Linked DNA regions of Homo sapiens: region 1 is linked to region 2. Evidence: fine-mapped expression QTL. Tissue or cell type: whole blood. Region 2 holds a variant in brackets; the other region holds the start of a gene. All regions are shown on one strand. Distances are between the middles of the regions.

What was found. PIP is the estimated chance that this variant, and not a neighbour inherited with it, causes the effect.
Region 1: it holds the start of PLXNB2, and the variant in region 2 is fine-mapped to the expression of PLXNB2 in whole blood (TOPMed, PIP above 0.99).

Annotation. Positions count from the first base shown.
Region 1 is chr22:50,306,384-50,309,024 of GRCh38, reverse strand. It overlaps PLXNB2 (plexin B2), which reads left to right and starts at 1,379. Exons shown (of 37, transcript NM_012401.4): 1 at 1,379-1,472. RefSeq lists silencers at 308-357, 1,058-1,107, 1,268-1,467, 1,478-1,547, 2,068-2,218 and an enhancer at 2,526-2,641.
Region 2 is chr22:50,369,859-50,372,694 of GRCh38, reverse strand. It overlaps PPP6R2 (protein phosphatase 6 regulatory subunit 2), which reads right to left. Exons shown (of 24, transcript NM_001242898.2): 2 at 545-675. It also overlaps the pseudogene RN7SL500P. Among named protein-coding and RNA genes, the nearest start is that of PPP6R2, 28 kb to the right of the region's middle. The variant C/T (reference allele first, on the strand shown) is at 1,642.

The sequences.
Region 1 (2,641 bases), 64 kb after region 2:
TCTTTTCCTTTTTTGATAAAAAGTTGGCAACCTTGTCAGAACCTGGTAATTTTGGGGTCCTCTGCAGTGAAGGGTAGGGTTGCCGTGATGTGGATTGTGGTTCAAGGCCCAAGGGAAGATTTTGGACAGGAACAAGGCCTGGCTGCTTGAGGGTGGGAGAAGGCAGAGACTGAAAGAACTAAGTCAGGCTGGGGGAGTTTGTCAGGATGTGGCGGGGCGGATCCCGGGTGGGGGAAGCAGAGGAGGAGGGGATGCCTGGCTGGGGACAGGAGGAAGCTGACCAGCTGCAAGGACGGGGCAGGTCTGGGTGGAAGGCGGGCCCCAGGGAGGGGTGACCCAGGGTGGGGGCAAGAGCTTGGGGAATGCTTCTGTCTCCTGCTCAGCACATCCAGTTCCGGGAGGGCAGTGGAGGCGTGCTCCAAGGTCTGGCCCTGCAGACGGTTCACCACCTCTTCTCAAGCCCAGGGGACACTAGGAGCACTGAGGCCAGGACTTGGGACCTGGGATGCCAGAAGTGGGGCCAGCTCTGTCCCAGAAACCAGAACCCCCAGAAAGAGGTCTCGGCCCGCCCACCTCCTGGCCCTGAAGGACCAGGTGGGGTCCCGGGTGCAGCATCCCAAGGTGCTGCTGGAGGCCAGGGATGTGCTGGGAGGCCATCTCCAGGTCCCAGTTTACCCTGGGAGGTTGAGGGCCTGAGACCCCTGGGAAAGGGCCAAAGCCCAGCAGCCCCCACCCCTGAAGGCCGCAGGGGAGCGACTGGTATGCTTCCAGTCTGGGAGTGAGAGTCTGGTGCCCACACATCTCAAGACTGGCAGGGACCCTCACGTTCCTCTGGCCAGGCGAGAGTGCACTCATAATGCCCTCCCCTGGTACCAAGCCATGGCCTCCCCTCAGACCTGCGGGGTTCCTGTGGGGGTGCTCAGGCCATGGGGCCTCTGTGGGCGCTCGTGCTTCCTGGACGGCGGCATGGTGGGCAGGGTGCTGCCCTGGCTGAACCTGGGTCTGAACTGGGGTGCCTGAACCTACCAGACAATGCTGTGGCCGCTGGGCAGGGGAGAAGTGGGGGGCGCGGGGAGCGCAGGCCCAGCCCCTCCCCTCCCGTCCCCTCCCCTCCTCTCCGGTTCTCTTCTGCCCTCTCCTCCCCGCTCCTGCTCCCCCTCCCCTCCCCCTCCCCCTCTTCCCCCTCCCCCTCTCCCCCTCCCCCTCTTCCCCCTCCCCCTCTCCCCCCTCCCCCTCTCCCCCCTCCCCCTCCCCCTCCTTCTCCCCCTCCGCTTTCCCTCTCCCTCTCCCCCCTTCTCCTGTTCTCCCCGCCCTCCCCTCCTCTCCCTCGTCGGGGGCGGGGCCGGCAGCTCCCGCGCGCTCCGGCCCCTCCTCGGCCACACAAAGGCCCCGTCTCCATGGCAGCAGCGCGGGCCAGAGCGCAGCGCCGAGCGCGGCCCGGGCGCCATCGAGCCTTGGCGGCGGACGTGCAGGTACCGAGCTCGGGGGACTGGGCTGCGGGGGACGTCTCGCTGGGCGTGGGGGGGGCTTCGCCGTCAGCGCCGCTCCGCCCGGGCCTGCCGCGCTGGGGCCCGGGGACCTGCGGCGGCTGCGGCTCCGCGGAGGGCTCCCGGGGCCTGGGCCCCGTCCGTCGGTCCATCCGGCGAGGCCCGGGCCGCTGCCGCCCCACTCCCTTCCCGGTGTTGACTCGGGGGACGGGCCCGGCGGCGGGGGCTGCGCGTCCCTCCGGAGCCGCGTCGGATCCCTCCTCCGCGCCTGCCTCTCACTCTTCAGCCGCCGAGCTCCGTGCGCCGAGCGGAGATGGTCTCGCGGTGCGGGCGCTCCGGGCCGGCCCCAGGCTCAGCGGCACAGGAGCCTGGATTTGCCCGAGCTCCCGGGGGCCGTCCCCGCACCCCCTGGGGCCTGCTTGGCGCGGGGGGACCAGGGCGGAGAGCACCCGCACCTGGCGAGACCCCACTGCCTGGGCCTCCTCGCGGTTCCCAGAGTGGCGTCTGGGTGGACACCCCGAGACACAGAAAGTCTCAGAAGCGGGGGCGCGAGCCCTGCCTGTCCCCTGCTGACCCTGCCCCTCCGCACCCTGCTCCTGCAGGAAGCCCCTGCCCTGCCAGCGCCCCTGGTCGGGCTATTCGGCAGATCTGGGGAGCCCGCCTCCCCCTGTCATCTGGGGGTCTCAGAGCCCGGACGCCCTGGGGCTTCCTGCCAGGCCCTTGATTTCTCTTCCCGAAGCTCCCTGGGAAAGGAAGAAAGGGGTCCGTCTGCCCACTGTGGGCTGTGGCAGAGTCAGGACAGGGGGTGAGGGTGAGGGTGAGGGTGAGGGTGAGGGTGAGGGTGAGGGTGAGGGTGGGCCCCAAACCCGGCAGATCCCGGCGGCCTGGAGGGCTCCCTGTGCCCCACCTTCCCTGGACCCCCCCGCCCTCCCCACTTAATGTCTGACTTCGGCCCTTGCTTGGAGGTTCGGCGCAGCCTGTGAGGCTTTAAAGTTGAGCTTCCTCAGGAGCCCTTTGCGGGTGGGAGAGCGAGGCTGCCGGGAAGTGGGGGCTCTCAGCCTGCCCCATGCCCAGATGACCCTGGCACGGAACAGCTGAACAGCTGGTGGGAGGAGCCCTCCCTTTCCTGTCCAGAGGTGAGGGTCTCCCGGAGG
Region 2 (2,836 bases):
AGAATTAAACTTGGGCTTGGAAAGACCAAGCAACTTGCTCAAAAACATGCAGAGCATCTCAAAACCAGACACAGGAGGATCAAAAACCACCAAAAGACAACAGACCATGAGCACATCTGTTTTTTTGTTTTGTTTTGTTTTGTTTTGAAACAGAGTCTTGCTCTGTCGCCCAGACTGGAGTACAGTGACACGATCTCGGCTCACTGCAACCTCCATCTCCTGGATTCAAGCGATTCTCCTGCCTCAGCCTCCTGAGTAGCTGGGATTACAGGTACACACCACTATGCCCAGCTAATTTTTGTATTTTCAGTAGAGACGGGTTTCATCATGTTGGTCAGGCTGGTCTCGAACTCCTGATCTCATGATCCACCCACCTCGGCCTCCCAAAGTGCTGAGATTACAGGTGTGAGCCACAGTGCCCAGCCAGCATATCTTCTAAACTACGTTTTTCGCTGTGACCCATCTTTGAACTTCCACCTGTACAGAACTTTTACATAAATTACACAATAAAACAGAATCAAATTGAAAAAGAAACTTATCTTACCTTCTGTGGAAATCTCTTGTTTAAATCATGTATTCAGGCAAAACAGAAAAACATTTGTGGTTTTTTTCTTGGAGTATATGCAGCTTTAAGAAAATTTTTTTCATTCAGTGGAAGATTTATAATCTCTTTACCTGAAAAATAAGAGGAAAAATCTTGCTTTAAGTTCTTCCTCGGTAAAGTTAACTTATCAAAATGGCAGACAACAGGAAAAGGAGGCAGGGTGCGGTGGCTCACACCTTTAATCCCCACAGAATGGGAGGCCAAGGCGGCAGATCACTTGAGTCCAAGAGTTTAAGACTAGCTTGGGTGACATGGAAAAACCTCATTTCTACCAAAAAATACAAAAATTAGCCGGGTGTGGTGGCGCATGCCTGTAGTCCCAGCTACTCGGGAGGCTGAGGCGGGATCACTGGAGCCTGGGAGGCAGAGGTTGCAGTGAGCTGAGATCATGCCACTGCACTCCAGCCTGGGTGACCAGAGACTGACCCCATCTCAAAAAAAAGCAATTACAAAATTTTAAAAATAAAGCAATGGAACAGCATTTATTATCTGTCCCTTAAATATAAAATTTGTCTTTGATTTCATAATTCAACTAGCAAACATGACAGTTAAAATGATATTTTAAGATAGTTTTCTTTTTTTTTTCTTTTTTAAAGAGATGGGGTCTCACTATGCTGCCCAGGGTGGAGAGCAGTAGCTATTCACAGCTCCAGTCCCACTACTAACCAGCATGGGAGTTTCTGATGTGCTCCATTTCCAACCTCAGCTGGTTCACACCTCCTTAGGCAACCTGGCAGTCTTCCTTTTCTGGGAGGTCACCATACTGATGCCGAACTTAGTGCAGACACCCAGTTCACACAGCACATTACAGCCCTCAAGTGATCCTCCTGCCACAGCCTGCTGAGTAGCAGGAATTACAAGCACAAACCACTGTGCCTGGCTATATTACAACTTTAAAATTCCATTTTATAATTATCCTAGTCCCAGGTGAAATAATGTATTTAATAATTTGTAGGATGGGTGGAGTATTATGTTTAATTGGCGTTGTCAGGTATGAAGTCCTTCAGAAAATAAAATTTGTTTTAAAAAAGGTCTGA[C/T]GTTTAGCTCTTGAACCCACTGTCACTTAAATTTCCAATAATGATTAAAAATATTTTTAAATTAGGATTCCCAATACCCTGACCTCTACAAAGGGTTTCTTAGAAATAGGTCCTACATTTGTGGCTGGGGGCAGTGGCTCACGCCTATAATCCCAACACTTTGGGAGGCCGAGGCGGGTGGATCATGAGGTCAGGAGTTCAAGATTAGCCTGGCCAACATGGTGAAACCCCGTCTCTACTAAAAATACAAAAACTAGCGAGGCACAATGGCAGGCGCCTGTAATCCCAGCTACTCGGGAGGCTGAGGCAGGAGAATCACTTGAACCCGGGAGGCAGAGGTTGCAGTGAGCCGAGATCACGCCACTGCACTCCAGCCTGGGCAACAGAGTGAGACTCCGTCTCAAAAAAATGAAAAGAAAAAAAGAAATAGGTCCTACTTTTAAACTTTTTTCTTTAAAACATAGCGTGGCCAGGCGTGGTGGCTCACGCCTGTAATCCCAGCACTTTGGGAGGCCAAGGCGGGTGGATCACGAGGTCAGGCATTCGAGACCAGTCTGGCCAACATAGTGAAACCCCATCTCTACTAAAAACACAAAAAATTAGCTGGGCGTGGTGGCAGGCGCCTGTAATCCCATCTCCTCGGGAGGCTGAGGCAGGAGAATTGCTTGAACCTGGGAGGCAGAGGTTGCAGTGAGCCGAGATCGCGCCATTGCACTCCAGCCCTGGTGACAGTGCAAGACTCCATCTCAAAAACAAACAAACAAGACGTGGCACATAGTTCTGTGCACTGTTAGTATTTGGAAAGCATCTTGAAAGATCAATGGAAAGCTAAAACATTCTAAATTTAACATGAATACACTTACTTTTGATTCAGAAAATAAAATCAGATCTTTCAAAATAAAAAAAAAGTGTCGATCACTGTCGAAGTTAGGTGATGGGTACATAGATGTTAATTATGTTTTCTCTACTTTTGCATATTTTTACATTTTATATACAAATCAAAAAGGTGGGATGTGGTGGCTCACATCTGTAATCCCAGCACTTTGGGAAGCCAAGGCAGGAGGATCACTTAAGTGCTGGAGTTTAAGACCAGCCTGAGCAACACAGCGAGACCTTGCCTCTACTTAAAAAAAAAAAAAAAAAAAAAATTACTTAGCTGGGTGTGGTGGCACACACCTGTGGTCCCAGATACTTG